3 linked regions of the Homo sapiens genome follow. The protein of the gene in region 1 interacts with the protein of each later gene in a biochemical or structural test. Each region holds a gene or a part of one and is shown on either strand. Other genes may lie near its edges. The genes, in order: NKX2-5, KPNA4 and TBX5.

The links.
Region 2: the proteins of NKX2-5 (region 1) and KPNA4 interact in a test that uses a peptide from one of them, tested with the Homo sapiens proteins (one study listed by BioGRID).
Region 3: the proteins of NKX2-5 (region 1) and TBX5 form a complex in vitro, tested with the Homo sapiens proteins (one study listed by BioGRID and IntAct).

The regions. Positions count from the first base shown.
Region 1 is NC_000005.10:173,232,407-173,242,797, reverse strand, and holds the start of NKX2-5 (homeobox protein Nkx-2.5), read left to right. Parts: upstream 1-7,591; 5' UTR 7,592-7,714; coding exon 7,715-8,048; intron 8,049-8,657; coding exon of another isoform or gene 8,658-8,752; exon of another isoform or gene 8,753-9,289; intron 9,290-9,296; coding exon of another isoform or gene 9,297-9,301; exon of another isoform or gene 9,302-9,333; coding exon of another isoform or gene 9,334-9,455; exon of another isoform or gene 9,456-9,588; coding exon 9,589-10,229; 3' UTR 10,230-10,391. UniProt on the Homo sapiens protein: Transcription factor required for the development of the heart and the spleen. During heart development, acts as a transcriptional activator of NPPA/ANF in cooperation with GATA4.
Region 2 is NC_000003.12:160,562,772-160,566,749, forward strand, and holds the start of KPNA4 (importin subunit alpha-3), read right to left. Parts: upstream 2,801-3,978; 5' UTR 2,512-2,800; coding exon 2,443-2,511; intron 1-2,442. UniProt on the Homo sapiens protein: Functions in nuclear protein import as an adapter protein for nuclear receptor KPNB1. Binds specifically and directly to substrates containing either a simple or bipartite NLS motif.
Region 3 is NC_000012.12:114,399,987-114,410,101, forward strand, and holds the start of TBX5 (T-box transcription factor TBX5), read right to left. Parts: upstream 6,159-10,115; 5' UTR 5,642-6,158; intron 3,951-5,641; coding exon of another isoform or gene 3,913-3,950; coding exon 3,766-3,912; intron 1,935-3,765; coding exon 1,840-1,934; intron 1-1,839. UniProt on the Homo sapiens protein: DNA-binding protein that regulates the transcription of several genes and is involved in heart development and limb pattern formation. Binds to the core DNA motif of NPPA promoter.

The sequences.
Region 1 (10,391 bases):
GGCCTGAGAGGCTCCAGGCTGTGCCACCGTTGGGCAGACCCCACACTTCAGGGAGCTGCCAGGATCAGTGGCTACAAGAGTCCCCACCGTGTTTGGAGAAACTAGGTATGAAATATTTCCATTTACACCCCTACCCCGGCCCCAGACAGGAAAGTCACTTCAACCTTGTTAGGTCAGATTCCAGATCTGGTTCAGATGCAGGGCTATTTCAGAGAGATTTTTAGAGGCTGACTCTCAGGAGAGGGAAGGACAGTGGGCTGAAGGCCAGGGGTCAGGAAATCTAGGAACTGCTAAACTCCTCTGCTGGCCTGCGGGGAGCGCCCGGGTGGGGCTACCAAGGCCACAAGCCAGTTCCATCTTCCCACTTTGCCACCTTCTCACAGGGACCAGGCTCTGCATCCTCAGTGACCACAAGACTTGGGCCTGCCCTCTAGTTTGTCTATACCTGCCCCCTCCCTTGACTCATACTGTCCAAGACCCCAAGACCAAACCACAAGTCAGGAGAGATCTTGAGGGCAGCCAGTGCCACCAGGGTCCTGTTCCCAGGTACTACTAGACAAAGGCCACCCTTCCTCCCCTCTCTCTAGGGCTCCGCTGACCACCCTGCACAGTCTTCCTACACCACGGGCTCCGCTGCCACCCCTTCACAGAGAGTTCACTGCACCGCTGCTTCGGCTGCCTGTCTCAAACCATACACACACCTTTGATTCTTAAACTCCAAGATTAGGATGGGCCCCAGAAATCTGCATTTTTAATATGTACCTCAGAGGATTCTGGCCTAGATATTTCTACAGCCCCAAAAGTAACAAGGAACCTGTTCCAAAAAGTGTATTACGGAAACTGTCATGTTTATTCTTGACTTGCCCCCCAATTATTCTTCCCCTGAAGTTTTCATCACCAAAAAACCCCACATGTGAACCATATGTGTACATATGCCCATATTTAAAATACAAATTCTGCACCTGGTTTGCTATTTAAAGTATCTCAAAACATATCCATAAGAATACATATGAATGGAACTAATTCTTTCTCATGGCATATGGTATTCTGTTCTATTGGTACAACATAATTTTTTAACCAGTCCTCAGGTATATATACACTGGTTTTTTTAACATGTTTTGATTCTTAAAAAAATTAAAAACGGTGATGAAAATACTTTTCTTTGCATATATGTATATACCTATAGAATGGAATCCTAGAAATGAAAATATTTGTTCAAAGAGCTTATTCATTTTTAATTTTGGCAGTACCACATTGCTCCAAAGAGGTTTACCAGTTTACAATGTAGAAGCATGACGAGGCAACTATTACACTTTTTGATCTTCGTCAGTCTGATAAGTAAAAACATTTGCCTCTCTGTGTTTCAATTTGCATTTCTTTATTTCTTTTTATTTTTTCCAGCAAGGCTCTGATACTCTTGGTCATTTTTCAAATATTTTTGCTGGATCATTTTCTTATTGATTTACAGGTATTCTTTCCAAATTGTGGAAATCAGTACTTTGTCATGTATTTCTAGCATTTTTCCTGAGTACAGTTTTCTGTTGGATTCTATTAATGGTATTTTTGCTGTGCACAGATTTATTTTTATGCAATCAGGTTTATATAATTCATCTTTTATAGTTTCTAGGTCTTTTGTTCTCTTAATCCCCCTCTCAAATATAAAAGCACTCCAAAATTATTATTTTAATTATCTGTAGCACTTTTGTGTTTCATTTTTAACGTCCAAATGTTTGATCTATCTGAAATTGAATGTATTTGGTATAAGAAAAATCCATCACATTTTCCTTACGTTAACATCATTTTATTTTGAAAGCATATTGTCATATAGACCATCCCTCCCCCCACCCCAAATAGCATAATATTGCAATTGGCGGGGACTTCTCATCTTAACCAGTTTTACTTTGTTGGTTAGACAACTACCCACGTGCCTGTCTACCTCTGCCCACTGTCCAGGTGAGTTCAGGTAACAACCTGGGATGTCTCCCAGGATAGTGTCGCTGGAAAGGAACGCTGTGTACACCTCATACCACCAAGGAGACAGACACAAAACTGGGGACCAGACAGGAAAAGAGACATGCTCAAGATGAGCCAACTGCTGAAAAGGCAGGACCACACCCACCGCGGGCTCAGAGGCCAGCGCTCTTTCTGACACACGCCTGCCTTTTTCAGGGTCTGTGCATCTTGGGCTGTGCAACCCCAGCACCTGGTACATAGTGGGCACCCACTCAATGTAGGTGAAGGGATGGAGAAAATCAGGCCAAGAATCCAACAGTGACCAAGCTGTGGAGTCACTTGGCAGCTGGGTGAAAGCTACGGTCCACTCTTTTAGCCTCTCCCCTCACAGCCACACACACACACACACACACACACATACGCACAGTATCCACTAGCCATGTGGATCTGCTCTTTCCTTCTGTGGGCTCTAGGCCCTTCCTATGGCTGAGCAAGTTTCCATGGACAGCTCTTAAAGCAGCTTGGAGACTTTCTGTCTGTCCTAGCTGGCTAGCAGGGGGCTGGGGAGGGGTGGGGGGTGAGGGAAGGAAGCCAAAACCCAGCTAGGCAATAGAGAGTTAGTATTTCCAGTGCTCTGCTCAGACAGCCCAGAAAGCAGGATTGACTACATAGTTTGTGGGCTCAGCGCAAAATAGAAATGTGGAGACTCTGCTTAAAAACTTATGAAGAGTTTTAAGACAGCAACAGCGGAACATTAAACCAAGCTCAGGCCCTGTGAGACTGCACAGATGCCATGCCCATGAAGGATAGGGTTAATTATGGAGGAGGGGGAAGGGCCCTTTCAAGGACTCTAAAGCTTCAGACTGTAAGGTAGAAGTGGGCTGGAGGGGTATTCATAATAGACAAAATGTGGAAATAACCCAAATGTTTACCAAGTGATGAATGGACGAAGTGTGGCATAGACATACAATGGAATATTGTTCAGCCATTAAAAGGAACAAGATGCTGATACGTGCTACAGCATGGACGAACTTTGAAAACATTATGTTAAGTGAACGCTGCGAGACACAAACAGCCACATATTGTATGATTCCATTTGTATGAAATGTCCAGAACAGGCAAATCTATAGGGGCAGAAAATAGATTAGCAGTTGCCTAGGGCTGGGAAGGTAGGAGAGGGGATTGGAGTTGATGGCTAAAGACCACAAGTTTGTTTTTGGGGTGATAAAAATGTTCTAAAATTGTGGTGTTGGTTTCACAACTCTGTGGACATACTAAAAATCACTGAACTGTATACTTTAAATGGGTGGATTGTATGGTATGCGAATTATATCTCGATAAAGCTGTTATCAAAATAGGAGAGGGAAGGGAGAAGGGAAAGGAAAAGTGGGAGAGCGAGGGGAGGGGAAGGCGGAAGTGAAATGAACGCATGTTAAATTCCTCTCTCCCCCTCTCTTTCTCAAATGAACTTTATGCAGGAAATCTCCCTTGTCTATGAAGGTTGGGGAGACCTGGCATCTCAAATCCAACAGCCTGGTCCTCTCCCCTGGCTGCGGGGTGGGGGGTGATGGTGGGGGTCTTGCTCTTCCTCCAGTTGGTACGGTCTTGGGCGCAGCGACGTGTAATAAAAGAAAACAGTCTCAGCTGTGCAGTCAGCTGTGTGTTCGAATCCTAACACCCTGACACTGTCCTTTCCCATCTGTGTGACCCTGAGCAACTTACTCCACGTCTCTGAACCTCATTCTCCTCAGGCCTGCAGTCGGAATAAGAGGATCCGTGACGAGATCCGTGAGAGCGCCTGGCACACCCCGTGGGCACTGAACAAGCGTGGAAATGAGAAGGATTTGGTGCCAGCTGAGCCACCTGAATGAGGCGAGTCCCGAGGCAGGAAAAATCCGGTGCCGCGGAGGCCGCCTGGACTCTTCCGGAGCCAAGGGCGAGGTCGGCGGCCCTCAGAGTCGCCCCCCGCCCCCAACTCCCGGCCAGGAAGGAAGCCGGGCGGCGGAGGGGCCCAGCGCGGAGGCGGAGGCGGAGGCGGAGGCGGAGGCCGAGGCCGGGAGTCCGGCGCGCAGCCGGAGCTGCTCATCCATCAGCCGGACGAAGAGCAGAGTCGCGCTCTCGGCCCTCTGTTTGCTTTCTCGCCAATTATTGCAGCGCCGCAGCCCCTTTGTTGATACAGTAGTCCGAAAAAGTGCTAATGTTCATTTATCAGGGGGCCAGCCGGGGACTCCCACGAGTTGCGATTCTTCCCAAAATATAAACATGGGGCGAGCGTCCCAGACAGAAACTCCCATCTGTTTCCCCCGCGCGGGCCGAGAGCGAGGCGTTGTTGAAGATAAAGCCGCGGATAACGCCGCCTGTCTCCAATGGACGTCTCCCCAGCGCATTAATGACATTCCCGGTGATAGTTCCAGCTTATCTTTCAATTAATCATATATACCTTTTGCGACCAGCCCTGCTGATTGCACGAAAGGGGGGCCGGCTCCGGCTGCGCCGATCGCTTTTCAATTAATAATAATTTATTCACGGAGAATGCGCTCGAGCCACCCTGGAATTTGGATTATCTTAAAGCACCAACTCTTTAAAAGTCAAGGAAATACACAGATAGATTTTCGATCTCTTCTCTCTCCTTTTGTCTCTCTCTGCCTTTCTCTAGGCTGAAGGCTGTTTGTTTGTCCTGCTAGTTTGGTCAAAGTGCGGCGCAGAGAGGCGGCCAGGTTGGGTCAGCGGCCCTTGGGAAAAAAAGATGTGTCCCTGTTGGGGGCCAGAGAATCAAGTTTCCTCCCACCCAACCCCCAACTATTGCAATTTCTATTTAGATCTATTTAGAGGGATTTTTTTTTAACTCACTCGGAAACAGTGAGGACTGGAAAGAAAAGCTGCAAATGGCTCTCGGACTTTCCTCTAAGGAGACCAGCATGGGTCGCCCCAATTTCTATTTTGCACGTATTTGTCCGTTTTTGCCCCATCTCCTCTCTCCTGCAACACCAAGACCTTTTTGGAAGCCAAGAGAAATCATTACCCGATTCACAAAGAGCATAGAGAGTGTAACAGTCACTGATCTTGTTCAAATAGGGAGAGTTTTTTTTCCTTCCCTTTTTGTAACACCTGACCCACAGGACTGACAGTTCTAGGAAGCCCCCTTACCCGAAAATAGGAAATAAATCCTTGCCACCTTGATTTGCAAGGGCAATGCTAATTTTTTTCTTTCTCCAGAGCTCTCAAAAAAAAAAAAAAAAAAACCTTACTAAAAACAGGGATCCCGGATGTAGCCTCGATGTCCCCCATTAAACGGTAATATTTCAGGCGTCCGCTCACACTAATCTTTCAAACTGTCATCGCGAGCCGCCTGGCCAGCAGATTCACTTAACAGCGCTCCCAGGACCCTCGTTCCGAGCTCTTTTCAGCGAGACATTTAATTGAATCGGATGTGGCTCGTTTGCCAGACGTCACCGCCTCGGCGATAGGCATCCTCTCCAACGACACCCCCCCCCGCCCGCGCTCGAAAACAATCTTCAAAGGCAAGGCGGGCCCCCAAGCTAGGTTAATTTACAGCCATAACGGTAACGTGGCCAAAAGTCCAGGCGAGGAAGGGCCGCAAGGCCGCTGACATGCAGCTCCGTCCAAGGAGAATTTGGGTTGGGAGGTGAAGAGGTGGGGGGACGAGGTTTCCTGGGCCTTGAACGCCCCACATTTAAGAAAAGGCATCCTCCACAGACTAGACTAACAATTCCAGACCCCCAGTAGTCCCTGGCTCAGAAACTCGAGGCGTGATTTCGGCGTGGCAGCCCAGGCCTGTTACTGACGGCTGGCGCCTAGAAGCCGGGGTCAGGGCGTTGCGCGCCTCCTGGGCTGCCCTGCGGGGCTCACCTCTCTCCCCAGCATGGAGGCCCCAGGTCCTGGGAGTGTGGCTTTGATGAGGGACAGGAAAAGTCCCAACATCAGGCCAATGCTTGACTTCACTTGCGTCGGCGTCTCAGACGGCACACTGTCGGGTTTGAGCACCCAAGATGTACGTTCTGGACAGACACTATTTTGTCCCCATACATGGAGCGTTTCCTCCGCACCTTGGGCGCGCCTGCGGGAGCTGTGTCTTTAGGTAGTTTTTGGCCCTGCGCCGCCTTTATTCTACTCCAAGCGCCTCTTGCCAACCCGCACTCCGCAAAGAGCCAAGCCCTCCACATCCCCATTCTCAGCAAGTCCACGCGTCCCGCCCAGCTTCCCGCCCGCGGTTCCCTGTACCAGCTAGGGCCGTGAGAAGCCAACGCTTTTCCACTGACAAATCCTGTCATCCCCAGCTCTAGAAGGCGTCCTTAACCTGGGCCCGCTCTGCCTGCCCGGACTCCTGAATTGTAAGCAAAATAAAACTCCTCTCTGCAGTGTTCTGGGGAATGGAGAAGACCCCAAGCTTTCATCAGACCTCCCAAGGAGTGCGGGGACCCAGAGAAATGAGGCCACCCGGGCAGGATCTGGCCATGTAGCTGGCGCTCCTGAAACTCTGGCAGATTTGTCTGACTTCTGTGCCCTACTCTACTGACCCTGGGCTAAAAATGATCATGATCACCCCACTTGCCCTGCCCTTCCCCCACGCGCCTGACCGAGCCGCAGGGGTGCCCCACTGGAAGTCCGGCCCAGAGGCCTCAGAGAAATCCTGGCCTAGCTGGGCTCAGAGGAGCCCCGCCTCCCTGAGAGCTAAACCTGGGCTAGGACCCTGAAACCTCGAGGTTGGCAGAAGCCTGAGGGCCTTGCTGCCAGGCAGGGAGGGCACGGGAAGGAGGGAGGTGGGATCGATGGCCTCCAAACAGGGGAAACAAGGTGGCTGGTAGCTGGGGCACTCCACAAGACAGGTGTCTCCTGGGAAGCTGAGCTTACCAGCTGGGATTCCTGATTTATTTCATTATTAAGGGGAGAGGCATTTCCCTGGGAGGGTACTGGCAGTGACTGATGCCCCCTGGAGTTGTGCTGTGCATAACACTACTGTAGGAGGCAGCAACTCCTACCCCACCTGGCCATCACTCACCTTGCCCTTACTTTCGTTGACTCGCCCAGAAGCACCCAGAGCCTGCGGCATGACTGACCCTGTAGGCCAAGCCAAACCAAACCCCCGAATTGTCCAGAATCTCGCCCTGCTGCTATCCCCAAAGCCAGCCCTGTCCTCCAGGCTTCTCTTCCTATTCAGACTCTCCCTCATCCCACCACCTTCAGTAATAAAGCCTTCCTCAAATCACTCTCCTCCCCACCGCTTCCCACCCCATCCTTCTCTCTCCCATGCTGGTTTGGGTGCTGAGGAATATTTCTTCAAACCCACACCCATCCAGCCCTGCCCAGAGGCCTGACTCTGCATGCCTCTGGTAGGCTTTTCAGGCTCACATTAGGGAGCAAACGCAGGCTGCAGGAGCAAAAGGAGACCCTTCCAAATGCGTCGTGGCCCCTTTAAAAAAGCTGGGCAGGGCTTTTTTTTTTTTTTTTTTTTTTTTTTTTTTTTTTTTTTTTTGCCGTATGACTATATTAGGTGACACGAAACTGCTCATCGCTCCTGTCATCGAGGCCCCTGGCCCAATGGCAGGCTGAGTCCCCCTCCTCTGGCCTGGTCCCGCCTCTCCTGCCCCTTGTGCTCAGCGCTACCTGCTGCCCGGACACATCCAGAGCTGGCCGACGGGTGCGCGGGCGGGCGGCGGCACCATGCAGGGAAGCTGCCAGGGGCCGTGGGCAGCGCCGCTTTCTGCCGCCCACCTGGCGCTGTGAGACTGGCGCTGCCACCATGTTCCCCAGCCCTGCTCTCACGCCCACGCCCTTCTCAGTCAAAGACATCCTAAACCTGGAACAGCAGCAGCGCAGCCTGGCTGCCGCCGGAGAGCTCTCTGCCCGCCTGGAGGCGACCCTGGCGCCCTCCTCCTGCATGCTGGCCGCCTTCAAGCCAGAGGCCTACGCTGGGCCCGAGGCGGCTGCGCCGGGCCTCCCAGAGCTGCGCGCAGAGCTGGGCCGCGCGCCTTCACCGGCCAAGTGTGCGTCTGCCTTTCCCGCCGCCCCCGCCTTCTATCCACGTGCCTACAGCGACCCCGACCCAGCCAAGGACCCTAGAGCCGAAAAGAAAGGTGAGGAGGAAACACAGGCCCCCTTCTCCCCTCCTGGGTCGCTTTCGTCCCCAAGAAACTCAGGGCCAGGAGGAGGAGACACGCGCCCTTGGGCCGAGGGCTGGGCTGCGGCGGGGGGTTCAGAATGTAAGATGCCTGGTGTTGTCGCCAGGCTCCCGCGCCCCGCGTCCAATCGGAGGTTCAGAGGAAATGCCGGATTGAAAGGATCAGAAGCAAGAGACCAAAAAACGTTTCCCCCCGGCCTAACAAAGCCCCGGGCGGCTTCGGCTCTGCTCCTGGGTCTGGTAGGAAGTTGAGAAATCGGTTTATGGTAGACAGAACAGAGAGACAAGCAGATAATCTCTGTTTTTAAATCTCCTTTGGATTTACGAATCTTTTTAAAGATCTGATGAGAACCGCTAAACAGAAATTGAAATGTTGCTCACCAGACAGCTTTTGCGTACAATCGGAGGAGGGTCCTGGACCTTCTTTCTGCAGCCCACCCACGACCCGGGTTTCTGGTGCCTTTCTTTCTTTGCGCCAGGAAAGTGGAGTCTGGGATCGAGGGCCTTGATTTTAAAATGGGATACTGCGGACCCTCAGGAATCTGACTTCACTTTATTTTTTCAGCACAACTTGCCGGCGCGGCCAGGGCGGAGAGGTTCCCTCGTGGAAAAGTTAGGAAATGCTGCGCTACCGCGGGCACAAGGGAGTGGACGAGATGAGTGCGGGATCATCCCGCAGGCCATCCCAGGATCGGGGAGGGAGGCCGGCCCCGCTGCAGAAAGGGGCCTTCTGGGAGACCCCCCAGCCCAAGGCAGGAGCCCGGGCGATTCCCGGGAGGCCGCAGGCGCTGGGCGAAGCGCTGGGCGAAGGGCCGCTGCCAGCCGGGAGAGAATTCATAGGTTTGTTGAGGAGCAGAGGCCTGGGAACAAATTCGGGCGGGCACGGCGGCTAGAACTGATCGCTACCAATTCGAGGAAGCCAGCAAGGCAGGTTCCGAGGCCGCCTGCCCACCCGCAGCTTCTTGGACACTGCGCAAACCCTGCTGCGGCCAGGCTGGAGCCTCCGATCACCAAACCAACACTCCCTGGCCTTCTGTTTCTTGATTCCTTAATTTTGAGATAAGACCGTCCCTAGCAGTGAGGCCTCGGCCTCTGTTCATTTAACTTCTCAAACCAAACTAGCCCTAATTCAGTTCACCCCAGAGCATCACCTGGTTTTATTTTTATTTTTTTATTTTTTTATTTATTTTTTTTTTTTTTGCAGCCTGAAATTTTAAGTCACCGTCTGTCTCCCTCACCAGGGTGTGAACTGCCCCGAGGGCAGAGACCTCCCGTTTTGTTCTCCAGCGCCTTGAGCCAGCCTGACTTTCTACAAATGCTGAGTGAGACGTGTCGGTGGCTCCCAGTGCACTTGGCAGAGTGAGCCGCAGCCAGCTGGGCGCTCCAGGCAGGACACAGTGGCCTCCACGAGGATCCCTTACCATTACTGTGCGGCCGCGCTCCGTAGGTCAAGCCGCTCTTACCAAGCGTCTCTCTGCCTCTCTGTTCCCCCTCAGAGCTGTGCGCGCTGCAGAAGGCGGTGGAGCTGGAGAAGACAGAGGCGGACAACGCGGAGCGGCCCCGGGCGCGACGGCGGAGGAAGCCGCGCGTGCTCTTCTCGCAGGCGCAGGTCTATGAGCTGGAGCGGCGCTTCAAGCAGCAGCGGTACCTGTCGGCCCCCGAACGCGACCAGCTGGCCAGCGTGCTGAAACTCACGTCCACGCAGGTCAAGATCTGGTTCCAGAACCGGCGCTACAAGTGCAAGCGGCAGCGGCAGGACCAGACTCTGGAGCTGGTGGGGCTGCCCCCGCCGCCGCCGCCGCCTGCCCGCAGGATCGCGGTGCCAGTGCTGGTGCGCGATGGCAAGCCATGCCTAGGGGACTCGGCGCCCTACGCGCCTGCCTACGGCGTGGGCCTCAATCCCTACGGTTATAACGCCTACCCCGCCTATCCGGGTTACGGCGGCGCGGCCTGCAGCCCTGGCTACAGCTGCACTGCCGCTTACCCCGCCGGGCCTTCCCCAGCGCAGCCGGCCACTGCCGCCGCCAACAACAACTTCGTGAACTTCGGCGTCGGGGACTTGAATGCGGTTCAGAGCCCCGGGATTCCGCAGAGCAACTCGGGAGTGTCCACGCTGCATGGTATCCGAGCCTGGTAGGGAAGGGACCCGCGTGGCGCGACCCTGACCGATCCCACCTCAACAGCTCCCTGACTCTCGGGGGGAGAAGGGGCTCCCAACATGACCCTGAGTCCCCTGGATTTTGCATTCACTCCTGCGGAGACCTAGGAACTTTTTCTGTCCCACGCGCGTTTGTTCTTG
Region 2 (3,978 bases), on another chromosome or scaffold:
GGCACTATGAATTTCTAAACAAAACAAAACAAAAAAACCTGGCTAATGTCAATATATACTTATTTTTTAAAAGTCACACATCACAATATTCTTCTAATACAGCCTCAGGACTTAATCTGATTTTGACTAAAGTGCCAAAAGATATGAGGTAGGAGGAAACATCAATTTAAAAAATAAGGATAACTTCAGAAAGTCTGGCAATTCCACCAAAGGTTCAAAGTAAGTTTCCATATGATCTAGCAATTCTATTCCTAGGTATATAGCCAAGAGAAATAAAACATACATCCACACAAAAATGTTCTTAGTAGTATTATGTAAAATAGCTAAAAAAGTGGAAACAATGAAAATGTTCATTAACTGAAGAAGGGATAAATAAAATGTGGTATATCCATGAGCTGGAGGATCATTGGATCATTCGGCCATAAGGATCATTCGGCCATGAAACATTGATACATTCTTGTTACAACACGGATAAACCTTGAAAACATTACACTATGTGAAAGAAGCCAGTTAAAAAAGAGCACAAATTGTACAATTCCATTTATATGGGATGTCCAGGATAGGCAAATCTAAGAAGACAAAAACTGGTTGCCTGGGGCTGGGGTAGTTGGGAATTGGAGAGTGACTGTTAATGAGTACAGGTTTCTTTTTGGGGCCGTGAAAATGTTCTAAGATGGACTGTGGTGATGGTTGCAAAACTGCGAATACACTAAAAGCCACTTTAAGTGGGTGAATTGTATGGCATGCGAATTACATCTCAATGAAGCTGCCAGAAAAATGAAGCCAGAAATGTAGAGGAAAAAAGGGTTATAGGGATCTGTCAAGCACCTAATTGCTATTTTTCTGGATTCTGTAATTTTGTGGTACTTACCAGTTTTTAAGTTTTATCATTTGTGATTTTTTCTCATTCTAAGTATTCATATTAGTAAAAAACATTTTCACCACATTCTTTCATAAACAAGTAAATTTACTGAAAAATCATTGTTATTTAAGAAGCTCATTTTTATGGCATGCAAATTATCTCAATAAAGATGTGACATCTTTGCATTAAAAAAAGGGATCACAATGGTAATATGTTAACCTTAAAAGAACCACAGAATTAACATCCCTGGACACTTAGTCGTCCCTCAAATTATGAAACCCACTAAAACGCTTGAACTACTTTAAAGATAATATTAACAGCTTTGTAAAAAGCCCAAAAAATATCTCAGTCAAGCAGACTCTCAAGTTCAGAAATGCCATGGGAAGTTGAAGATTTCATTATGAAAACGTACCGAGAACAACATAAAAAATACTGCTTGACCACTTTCCCTAAAAGCTAAACTCGTGATTAAGATGCAGAAGGGAAGTATTAAATCTATTTATCTAAACTCTTAAAAGCTGAAGGGAAGAAGTCTTCTATCAAAAATCTCAGTGGGGTGTGTGGGTATGCGTGTGTGCATGTGTGTATTTAACCCATACACCTTATGTAGACAATCTCGGGAGCAGCTGTATCTAAGACAATGAAGCTTTTTTTTTCCTTTTTAAATAATCAAACGTGATGGTGCCATTCCCTAGCCCACCCCATCCCCCACTACCACCACCAGCAGGTGGAGGGAAAGGATACTGTAGACTAGAGGATGACAGCTTTGTATAACCCTTTAGACTTTATATGTAAGAATGCAGCTGGTGGTCTCCTCTCAGGAGGGGGTAAAGAGATTTGTGGACAAGCTGAAATAAGGGGTATCCTTTGCCTGGAAGAGGGCACACCGTGAGCCACATCTTGAATCAGCTATATCCAGAGTAAAACACAGGCCGCTGGAAGGCACTGTTAGGATCACCAGGATGGCCTCTCACGCCGGGGGTGTTTTTTTCAACGGAGAAGTTGTCCTGTAGTTTGGATATTGGGGGGAGGCAGGGGTAAAGCGGGAGTCGGGAAGACCAGAAAAAATGCCTTTAAGTGGAGACGCCTCGGGCCTCGCTGAGGAAGTTCAGAGCCCCACTCGGTCGCCACACGCTCACCCTCCCATTCCCACCGCCCTCCTTCCCGCGGCGCCAGACGTCGGTGCCCGAGCGAGAGCCGGAATCTCCGCCACTGCCGGGGAAGGGGCCGCGGCCCGGCCGGGGCAGCACCGGCCGCACACGCACGCCTCCTCCGCACGCGCCGCGCCCGGCCTCCCCGCCGCGCGGCCCGGCCCCTCGCACCCGCGCCGGGCCGGCTCCGCCGGGCAGGCCTAGGCCGCGCCGGCCGTACCCGGGCACCTCGCTCCCCGGCGGAGGCGGAGCAGGCCCGACATAAACTTCCCGGCGCGCTAGCAGAGGCGTCACAGACGGGCCGGCCCCTAGCGCCATTCCCCGAGGCCTGGAGGCGGCTCCCGCCCCTAATCCCCACACTCGGGGTCCCGGCGGAGACCGGCCCCAGGCCCACAGCCCCCACCCCTCCGGCGTCGTCCCCGAGTTTACCTCCAAGTCGCGGCCTTTGTTCTTGAAATTCTTGAGCCGTTGGTTGTCCAGTTTCTCGTTGTCCGCCATGGCCGGGCCGGTGACTCCTTCCCCCGCCCGGGCCCCGCGGGATCCGCCCCAACCAACGCGCCGCACCGACACTCCCAGGAACCGGGCCGCCGCCTGAGCTGCTGTGCCCGCCGCGCCGCCGCTTCCTTCCTCCTCTCACCTGCCTCCGCCGCGGCCTTCTCCTCTCCCCGCCCGCCCCCCCGCCCTAACCCCAGCGCGACTGCAGCTCCGGCAAAGACAACTGTGGGGCCGGGCGGCGGCAAGGCGACGGAATGTGCTGCCGGCTGAGAGGGGGAGGCAGCCTCGATCTGAGGGCCCCGGCGCTGCGGCCACGCCCATCGCCTCCAGCCCGGCTCGCCCATTGGCTAACCAGGCTCCGGTGCGTTCGACCAATCAGAAGGGGCGATGGAGAGCCGGGGCGGAAAGAGCGAACGGAAAGGGGAAGCGAACGACGCTGGGAGGAGCCGGCTCCGGGCCCGGAGGGGTGCGGCGGGGGCAGGCGGGGAAGGACCACGTGCCTTCGGAGAGAGGGGTTGGAAGCAATAGAGAAGTAGACTTAAGGGGAAACCAGCAAGGGGAAGGAGAGGCCCGGGAACGCAGCAGGGCGAGTTGTTTTGCTCCACTCGTCCAGGAAGCCCTAGATGCCGGGGGTTCAGGGTCGAGGCTGCGTTAAAGTAACGTTCTTTTCTCCCCGGGCGCGCCCTGTCTTCCTGGGCATTCCTTGCGCTCTCCGTTCGCTTTGCAGAGAGATCTGAGCTTCGCTGTCTCCCGGTCGGACGCTCGCAGCTGCGTTCCCGGGCTGGGGCTCCGTGCCGTCCAGGGCCGGGTCTGGGGGCCAGGACCTGCTGGGATGACGTGAGTTGAGGAGGCTCAGCGGAAAGCGACAGGAAAGGTGGGTGGAAAAGGAAAGGGCCCATTAGACGAATCTGATTCATCTTCTGTGACTAAGCACCCGCAACAGTTAGGAATTTAGGCAGAGCTGGTGATCCTGGGACAATAGCACTTCCTAGGTAATTCGTCTTAAAAAGTTAAAGAAGCTGCTTGACCACAAAGTATGAACTTCTGGAGGGCGGGGCCCGTGGCAGCTGACAGGGAATATTGTGTGTTGAGAAAGGAAATGAGTTCCAAGGATACCAAGGACAACGTTACCAGAGGCAGAAATGACACGAGATACAAAAGAACGTATTCAAAAATTTAACAAAACAGAAATGGAAAATTATTTTAAAATATATTGAAATATCAACGAATAACACCTCAAATGTACAGGGATATGTAAAGCAGCAACTCGGGTCGGAAGCAAGGAATCGAGGCGTTGGGTGTGTTTAAACTTGACGAGGTAGGGAGAAGAGACCCTGATACAAACTCCTTCAGAATCGTTGACTCTCGGTCCTTTCTAGTATATTTTTTTAGTAGAACAACGTGCAGATAAGTGTTTAAAATGCAGATCTTCCTAAGGAAACACTTTTAAAGGCAACAGAGGGGAATTTT
Region 3 (10,115 bases), on another chromosome or scaffold:
GGAGAGGAGGCTTATTAGGTACAATGCTAGGCGCTGATCCTAGAGGATCTGTCTAGCCAGGTGCTTCCGCCGATCCTCGCGTTGCTAAGGTGTCACGTGTACACAAGGTGTGTGCGCCCCAGAGATGCACACGCGTGGGTGCGCCCAGGCTTCCCGACCTTGCTTTGGTCCTCTGCCGCTGGAGGAAGGGGAAGGCCGCGGTTCCCAGTATAACTCGGTTAATGACCTCTGACATGGGTCTCTAGCAGGAGTTTATTCCTGAATGCCCCCACAACTTCTCCAAGGCCCCTGAAACTCTTCCTCGGAGAGTCGAAATTCCTTGGCCTTCAGCAAAGAAATTCCAGACCCTTCCAGATCTGGTTTCAGAAAAAGCTGAGGCCTGAACTAAGATTCAGTCGTTATCAAGCCGATGGCCCGGAACTGTGCCGTCTCTGCTGCCTTTCTGCGCCCTGGCGCACTCCAAATTTCCCTCCACCTTCTGAGGAACATGCCCCAGAAAGCAAAGATTCTCAAGGCTGGCCCGGGGCGAAAAGACAAGTTGGCAGATCTCGGCTCACTCAGCGATGGCGGGAACGGTCGAATGGAGGCCTCTCCCTCCGAGCCCCGGAGCCAAAGCCTCGCAGTGTTTATCAGCCTGAGCGAGCGCGCCCGGAGGCGGAGGCGCAGAAGACTTCGCAGGCCTTTTATAGTTAAATCCTCACGGCTCAGGCTCGGGGGGAAAGAGGGACTCGGACGTGTCTTTCCTTCCTGGGGGAATAGGAAGAGGACTGCAGTTCGTTGATATAAACAGAACGCGCCTCCTAGTTCACTCAGGCCTTGGGCCGAGCGGGGAGCAGACTTTGTTTAATTTTAAATAATAATAAATGTCACTGTTGTCAGTTTATTGAGGGAGGCTTCGGCTGGAGAACGGGGGCGGGGGGCGTCTGGAAAGGCGGCTCCACCCTCCCCCTTCACACACTCGGTGGCTTGGGCCTACCGTTCGCCTGCTCCACACGCCTGCTCGGGGCATCCTCTGGCTTTTTGCTTTGCGGGACGCGGAAGACCCGTCCAGCACGGGTAGGGATGTGGCCAGGACGTCCCCAGGCCTGGGCGCGCGCGTGCACATGCTCACACACTCACACTGACATACAGAGCTGCACCACTCTCCTTCCTCCTCCCCCAGAAGTCTAGCATTTCTAGCTAAAACTCTGCGAGCTTTTAAGGGGAACTCCGGGGCGAGTGTCTTGGCGAAGCTGCCGTGTTTATTGGTGTCTGTATATAGAGCCCGGCCGAGCCCCGGTTCAGTTTTAAAGGCTTCGCCTGCTTTCTATAAACAATGAAAGAGGTAGCGAATACATCCAACGATTCAGAGTTTGACAATCGGGTGGGACCCTGGAGCCACTCCAAGGTCAGGGAGGGTGGGAATGAGGATTGGAGTAAAGATAAAGTCCAAGATCCCTGAAACCCAAAAACCTTCTAGACTCTGTCTTCTCTGGGTCTCTGTTTTCTGTTTTCTCCTTTCCCTCTTCTCTCTTTCCCTCATTACGAATCCAGATAGCACGGCCTCCCAAGCTCTTTATTCTTTCTATATGTGAGGTGGGAGAAATGCCCAGTTTCCGGGCTTGAACTTCTGGAGTATTTCCTCCATCCTAGGAGAGATCAATGGAGGAATCTCCTTGTGCCTCTTTAACCAGGATCTATCTTTCGCTCTCTCTCTCCTCTCCTCTCCTTTCTCTTCTTTCTCTATATTCCCTCTCCTTTTGCCCCTTTCCTTCCTTCTTCTCTTCCAAGCCACCTTTTCTTCTTCACCTCTCCCACAATTTCTCCTCGTCCCTCTCTCTACACAACAAACCATCTCACCTTCCAGCCTTGGTTATGATCATTTCCGTGCCCACTTCGTGGAATTTTAGCCACAGTTCTCTTTCATGGAGAAACACTTTGATTCCCTCCATGCCCTGCAAGAAGGAGAAAAAAGTCACACTAACAAGCCCTGGCAGTAGTGGGCATTCCTTCCCCAAACTCCCCCAAAACACAGAGACTGCTCCTCCTTCCCGCTGGAGCCTGTGGTCTCAGAGAGTAAAAAGTGGCTTCAGCCCACTGCAGAATTATCTGGAGCACCCAACAGCCTCTGCCCAGGGATCCCTATGTAGGCTGAATCCCTGAGGGTTGCAACAACCACTTGAACCCACAGTGCTGTATTGTCTGCTTCTAATGCCATCAGCACAAGGCTATGGAGTGATCACCCACCATCAGGGTGCTCCGGAATGTCACTGAGGAGGACCGGAATAAGAAAAAACCAACCAAACAAACAAACCAAAAAAAAAAAACCAGAGCCAATTTCAATCCACTTCACCTGAGATGGGTGGGGGGGATAGATAAAAAACCTAATTTAGAAAAACTAGGAACCTAATCTAGAAAACCACTCAGAATATTCTCATGTAGACACTCAGATGCCCACACATCAAACATACAGATGTGCAAATACTTGCTTATTCTCGACCATGGTGAGTGCAAACCTGAACATACATGAATTTTGAAACCTAAAAATGTTTGTATTATCATATATTCTTACAGTCCAGAAGGATAATTAATCCTAAATATCTATATTAACAAACCTTCCAGGCTCTCTCTACAAGTAGTTCCATTCACATCCAGCTATTTTGATTATAGGACACGCCTGATGCCATTTAACATTTTGGCTTTCAGCTAAAACTAAATTTACAGAACCGATGCAAATGTATATATATACATATATATACATATGTGCACACACACATACATGCACACACAAACTCTTCATTTTGGAATAATTTACAACAGTCTAAAAAGTGGGTTTGCTTTTCCTTAAAAGAAAAAAAAAAATCCCTAAGTTTCCTAAACTGTGTTCACGCTCTCTGCTTCTCTACAAATATACACACGTTTTCCTGAAACTTAAAGGCCAAAGAGAGAAGCCGGGAAAAGCCAGGAAGGGATCGAAATCCCAAGGCAGGATTTTAGCCATGTGTAAGTGTCTCTTCTGGTCGTCACCCCGTTTCACCCCATGTGACACCTTATTTAAAAATTACCAGGATCTACTGAGGGGCCGACTTGAGCGCCCAGTGCGTCCTGGGTTTTGGGCGCAGAGCGCAAGGTGAGGCTCCTCCCTCTGCCTGGGCCCAGGTTGTAGCCTGGCGAACCCGAGGCTCCTGGTGCCCTCCGGGCAGAGCTCTGTGCGCTCCCAGCGGCCGGTGATGGCGCGCCAGCCAGCCAGGCCCCGACCGCAAGACAAATGGTGCGGCGCGCGGGTCTAGTCGGCGGCGCGGAGGAGGCAGGAGGAGGCAGGAGGAGGCGGGAGGAGGCGAAGGCTACGGAAGATCAGAAGAGGGGTCAAGCCATCGCTCATGCCGGCCTGAATCGGCCGCTGACCTGGCCCTTATTAAGATGCTGGGGGCCGATTCTACACATAGTGCAGAGGGAAAGGAATTATCTAGGCCATTGTTAGCTGACCCCAAACGGCCGGATAATTGAGATTTCTCGAACAATTTAAATAGATTTCAAAAATCCTTTGGCCGTAAAGATAACCGTCACAATAAAGTAGATGGCAATACGCTAGCATTTGGGGAGACAGGGCAGAGAAAGGTGGAACTGAGTGGGAATAAAAAGGAAAAGGGATGATTATAGTCGTTGGGTTCGTTTTGGGGTTTTTTTATTTTGTTTTTGTTCTGTCCCCGCAAGAGAAGCCGAGCAGGAAAGCCAGACTCTGACTTTGATCTCTGCAAAGGGACCCGAAGCGCGAGGTCTCCTTACCTGCTGGGTGAAGGCGGCCTGCGGGGACGACGGGGACTTGCTGGGGGCCCCGAGCGCGCTCTCGGGTTTCGAATCGCAGGGCAGGTCTTTTGCGTCAGGCTCCAGAGGCGTGTGCGCCAGGCCAAAGCCCTCGTCTGCGTCGGCCATGGTGCGCCCAGGGCCCTGTGCCCGCGCAAGGTTCTGCTCTGAGGACAAGAAGCAGGGGGAGATGGGGGTGGGGAGGACAGAGAGAGAACGAGAGAAAGGTTGGAGAGCACAATTCTAGTGACAGGAGGGAGCAGTTTGGCCCCCAGTTTCCAGCTACCAGCACCTCCGTTCCCAGCCGAAGGTGACTGCAGAAGGCCCTAGAATTATTACTGTTACTAGTATTCCTAGTAGTATTACTATTACTTTATAAGCAGGCACAACTTCTTGCAAAAGACCCGCGTCAGACCCGGAGAAGGTGAGGCCCGCATCTCCCCTGCGCAGGCTCTCCGTGATAAGCAAGCTGCCCGTCAAATTTGTCTGGACTTCTGGAAGAGCCAATAAAGATAAGGCGTGGGTATTTTTGGAAGCCACTGGGTAGGAACCAAAAACAAAACAAAACAAAAACCCAGTGTCCTTTAGAGAATTTCTTTCTTCGCCAAATTACAAGATGCCGTCGAAACTCTTTTTATTAAACCTCACAAGAGGAATAGTTTTCTGCAGCAGGCAGAAATGTGTGAAATAACCCGCCTCTTGCAAAAAGAAAAACACAGAAGGGGAAGGTTGTGCAGATTGAGACTAGGTTCAAAAGAGAATTCATATACACCTTTTACCAGTTACAGGCCTTAACATTAAAAGTCCTTTAAAATTAAACATCCTTTTCTTTATCCCAACCTTAAGTAAGATTCGTTAAAAGATAAAAAGTAGCCAAACAGAAGACTAGATGAAGAAAGTCACCGTGCAGCCGTTCCGAGGAAGGCTCGTCACTGGGTGCCCGCCACCAGCGCTCTGATGCCGGGCGGGGGATGGCGGGCATTTTGTGGAGTGACCAGGCCGAAAGGGGTTTCTCTGAACTTCAGCCAGGCCTGGCCTGCTAAAACTGCAGGCTCAGGCTCAGGATTGGCGAGGACAAAATCATTCTCGGATAAGTCCTAGGCTGGAGACATTGAATCTGCAGCCCGGGTCCCCGCAATGCATAGAACGGCCCGGGTTTGCAGGCGTATGAGCTTAGAACACACAAAATAACTGCCGCAGAGCTGTTCAAGCCCGATGAGCCTGTCTCCTGCTCTCTGATCTCCTTCCAATCTCTTCTATACGCAAGTAGGAATTCCCCCTAGAACGGGAAGACTTTGGGAAGCGGGCACAAGCGATGGTCCCCCAAAACCTCAGCAGCTGCTTAAGCAAGCGGCCAGATCCCACCCTGACCTGCTGTGGCCAGAGATCTAGAAATGGGGCCGAGGAGAAGGACAGCTTCTGAGGCCTGACTTGCAAGCAGCTTTCTTCGCCTCGTTCTCGGGGCTTCAGGGAGGCGGCGACTGGAGCCCCGCTGCCTACTCACAACAAAAGAAAGCAGGGCTGGCGCCCCTACACGCGCTCCCATTCACTGCCGGCCGCGGGGAGAATCCTACCCCGCGCCCTCGCCAGGGTCCCGGGGAGCTCTGGGCTGGCGGAGGCGAACAAGATGCGGTTTGACAGAACCAGGCCGTGCTTCTGCAAACCTCAATGCCGCTCCGCCAGCCGCGGCGGCCTCCCAGACTCCATTTGCCGGGGAGCTCCGAGCCGCGCAAAATCTCTGCAAGCTGTGCTCTGCAGAATGCAAAGCCGGGCTGGAATCCGCCATTCCCGCCGCCCCAGCCGACTCGGCCGACGAGCTCCCTCCTGAGCCTCCCGGGCCATCTGCCGGGACGGTTACCTCGTTCGGTGAAGCCGGTGCATTCACCACATCCTCTGCTGCTCCTAGCAGGGAAGCCGGCGGTGAGGCGGGGGAGCAGGCATGGTGGCTCCGGGGTTTATGCGGGGTTTACTGCTTACCCAGAATAGCGGCTACTGCTGCCTACTAGGGCGCACCTACCGCTGGAGCCTCCGCGGCGACTGCCCACCTCCAACACACACCTCCTCTGCTGTGCGCTTGCTCTCCCTAAATACTTCCCAGTTGGCAAGCGCCAAAGAACACAAAATAGCCTCCAAGAGCACCGGCAACCATATAATCTCAGTGCCCCGCTCCTCCTTTACACCCCCAGGGAGGGAAAGTTGGAAGCCCAGTGAATGGTCGAAGTCCTTTCTGAGCGCAGCTTTCAGGATTAAAGTTCCCGGATTCGAGGTAAGAGTCAGTCTCTCTCACTCTCTCTCCCTCTCTCTCTCTCTCTGAAATACAAGCCAACTCAGCTGAGCACAGTGACGTTGGGTTGCCTCGATGCTCACAAAGTACTGAAATCGCCTATCCAACTAGCTCCCACTGCACTCTGTCGCCCTCCCCCTTCTCTCTCCCTCCCACCCTCCCGTCCTCCCTTCCCCCCACCCCAAATTTCCACTAGATTTCCCGAACACTCAAATCACAATACGACTCTCAACACAGACCTGCAATAACTCCCTCCTCTCTACCCCTTTCCCAACCTCCATCCATCTCTGCTTCTCTGAGCAAGCGGTGGCTGCAAAAACTCCTGCACAAATCATTTCAAACGCGGTCGGCTTCTAATCGGGAAGTAATCTCAGTGACGCTGGCGGTGCAGAGAACCGAGTCTGGACGCACACACACAAACACACCGCGGGCCTCCGCAGCCTTGCAGACATTCTCTCCAACGCTGACCTCGAGAAGGAGAGCTGCCTGACCCCGCCTGGCCGGCGCTCGCCTTCCTGACATCTCCCCTCCACCCCCTACTCATCACCCCTACTCTCAACGACTCTGGGGTGAAGGCAGGGTGAAGGTGCATTGGGATGGGGGCCGAGATCAAAGATGCTAAGAAATCGCTGCGGGCCCTCACCCCCCACCCAGTGGGGCCACCAGACGTCCCCTGCTCCAGGTGTACACAAGGCAGTGCCCAGTTTTATTAAAATAATCAAACAGTCACTGGGGACTGGCTAGGGTTTTCATCTCCACTGGTCTCCTCTCCTTGCCCTTTCCCTCTCTGAGATGTATTTTTTTTTTTTAGGGTGAGTTGAAGAGGTCAATAAAAGCACAAACACAGTCAGTAGGTCTCAGTCTGAGCAGACCCAGATTGGGACACCGAATATTGGTGCTTGGAGTAAATGTCAGGAGTCCTGTTCTGTTTCCCATCCTTACCTCCTGTACCCCCATCATACTGATTTTTCTAGGGTTCTGATAAGAGACTTGGGCCTGCAAGTCAAGGTCTGGAGAAAGGGATGGAGGGAGGAGAAATGCCCCGAGGTCAGCAGCTGTGTAACCCTCTGTGACTGCTCTGCTAAAATCCCAGGCCAGGCCATTGCTGCAAAATGCCAAAGTGGAGAATCTCCAACCCTGAATGTGGGGCAACCGGGGAGAAAGCCAGCCCTCCTTTGCTATGGTGCTCACTCCACCTTCCAGGTTTGTTTGCAAACAGATATTTTCCCTTTGCCCAGGCGATGTATTTATTTGTGAAAACACCCTCACCCTCCAAGTCAGCTTGGAGGCCTTTAGGCTTGCTGGCAAGGCGACCCTAGGCCGAAGACACGAAAAACAAACATGGCATCGGAAGAAGGCTGAACCGCTACATCTCCAGTAGAGGGAAAGGGAAATCCAGAAAGACCTTCCCAATCCCTTTAAGTTCTCAGAGATTTGGGGATAAAATTAATTCCCATAAATAATCTTCAGGCCCCTCCAGAGAGGAAAAATCTGGACTCTCCCAGGTAATAGCCCAGCCAGATTTGCTTAGCTCATTGAGCACAGATGGTCTGGGCCACCAAGCAAAATAGGGATTTTCAAACCTTTCGAGAGAATCCATTCTTGCCAGGTGACACACGAAGCCATTCTTATTTCGTTCATGAGAAGTAGCAGCACAGCAAGAGAAGATTCAGCAAGACTAAGACGGGGTGAAAAGCCAAGGAGGGCCAAGTGCAAAGAGAAACCTATTTCCCCCCTCAGTCCTCCAGGGTGAAACTCACCTCCAACTATCCCACCTCTTCTTTGGAGCGCAAAAGCCAGGAGTGCGCCTCGCTGGAGAGCAGGGCTCAGGTGAAGACTTTGAAAAGGACCACCAAAAGAGACCTCTTTAGGCCAGGTCTTCTTCCAACGTCTGTCAAGAAGAGCACGTACCTCCCAGCTCAAGGTTGGTTTGTGGTCTCCGACAAATTAAATATTACTGTTTATTACCAGGCATACCCCAGTAAAATAAAGAGGCAACCAGGCGATAGCGACTATCTCACCAGCCGCTGCACCTATAGGACTTGGAGACGTCACGAGTCACGCAACCGGCCCGCGCGCTGTCACGTTTGGCTGGGGGGCAGCGGCGGGAGGTAAATTTCTCTCCGTCTTCGCCTATCAGTGCCGGGTCTGCGCAGCCACAGGTTCCGGACGTCTTGGCCCCGGGAATAAATAAAGACATAAACCAACCCGGCTTTCTCCGGAGGAATGAGGGTGATGAACATAAGACACAAATAGAGCCAAGATCGACTTTCTTAGGAAGGGGGAGAGGAGGGAACTCTTCACGAAGGGAGGTGGGAGTCCACCTCAGACCTCTATTGGAAGGAAATCGAGTTGTTCCGGGGGACTGAGGTCTCTTGCATAAGGCATGGGATCCTTATTATTATTATTATTATTTTTAAATCCCCCGCGGAGGAGCTCTGGGCAAATGAATACCGAGGCGCCGCTCTAGCTGGTTAGGCTTGGGATGCGATAACTCAGTGCCCTCTTGCAGACTTGCATAGAAATAATTACTGGGTTGTCGTGGAGGGGACACGAGACAGAGGGAGTTCTCCGTAATGTGCCTTGCGGAGAGAAAGGTCCAAGAATGCAATTCGTCCCAGAGTGGCCCGGCAGGGGCGGGGTGCGAGTGGGTGGTGGAGTAGGGGTGGGAGTGGAGAGAGGTGGTTTCTGTAGAGAATAATTATTGTACCAGGGCCCGCCGAGGCACGAGGCACTCTATTTTGTTTTGTAATCACGACGACTATTATTTTTAGTCTGATCAATGGGCACAATTTCTAAGCAGCGCAGTGGTGGATGCTCGCAAACTTTTGCGCACCGCTGGAAACCCACTAGGTTGAGTTGCAAAACGTACCGCGTAGACGCCCCTGGTGGCGCCGAGAGAAGAGCTAGGCCTGCCCAGCACAGAGCCGGAGAGCGTCGGGCCTTCCGGAAGGGTAAGTTCTCCGCCAAGGGGTCCCGAGGGAGCTGGACGTCTGAATCTGGACTTGCCCCCAGCTTCGGGGTTCGATTCTGGGTTTTGCGCGTCCCCAACCCCCAGGGCTTTCCGAAGCATGGCCTGGCTCCAGGCCCGGTCCTGTAAGGACTGGAACGGCAGCAAAATGTGCAGGGAGGCAGTCGGCCGGCAGAGCTGCGGCGGGAGCCAAGGTCAGGCCCGCGGGGAGAGCGGGCAGCTTCCAGCGCCGGCCACAAGCTCCCAGGCCAGCTGGGCCGCAGACCCCTTTGCTTCCAGAGAGCACAACCCGCGTCCTTTCTCTCAGCCAGGCTGCAGTGGCTGCCCCGAGCTTCGCTTTCGTTTCCCAAGCTGTTAATAACGATATGTCCCCAAATCCGAGGCTCGTGTTTGCTCCCAGATGCCAAGAACGCAACCCGAAATCCTTCTCCCAAACCCTAGGTCGACGAGATGAGTTCCTACTTGACCTCTGAGCCGAGGTGGGCCGGAAACCGAGGCCTAGGCCCCGCCGGGGCTGCAAGGAAAAGGGGAAACTCCGAGCGTAGCGTCTTTTCCTTGTGGTTCCTTTCTCCGGCATCCCGGACTGCGGGCCCTGCAGCCACCTGGACCGGCATTCAAAGGATTCTGCAAGTCCAGCTTCACAGACTGGCTTTCCCAGACGCTCCGAAGCCCGCACCACGAACAGAATAAAGGAGAGACGAGAGATCGCAACTAGATTTGAGAATCCTCGTTCTTTTCCCCAATCGTTCGGGCAGTAAACTCCGGAGCCGGCTACAGCGCGCATCCTCCCTTCCTCCTTTCGGAGAACTGTCGCTTTCCCGAAGCTGCTCCCAGCTGGGTTTTCTCCCGAAGTTTATTTTTCTCATTTTGCAAAATTCCTGCCCTGATTTTAATACTGCAACAGGACAGCAGAGGTTCCTCTTTAAAAAGTCAAAACCCAAACCAAAGGGGCCCATTGCTGTTGATAATTTTTTTCTTCACCTTCTCCTTCCGTTTTTAAGAAAGACACTTCCAAAACTACCCATTGTTTTCCTCTCAAAAGAGAACTCGCTTTAAAATGCATCCCTTTCTATTTCT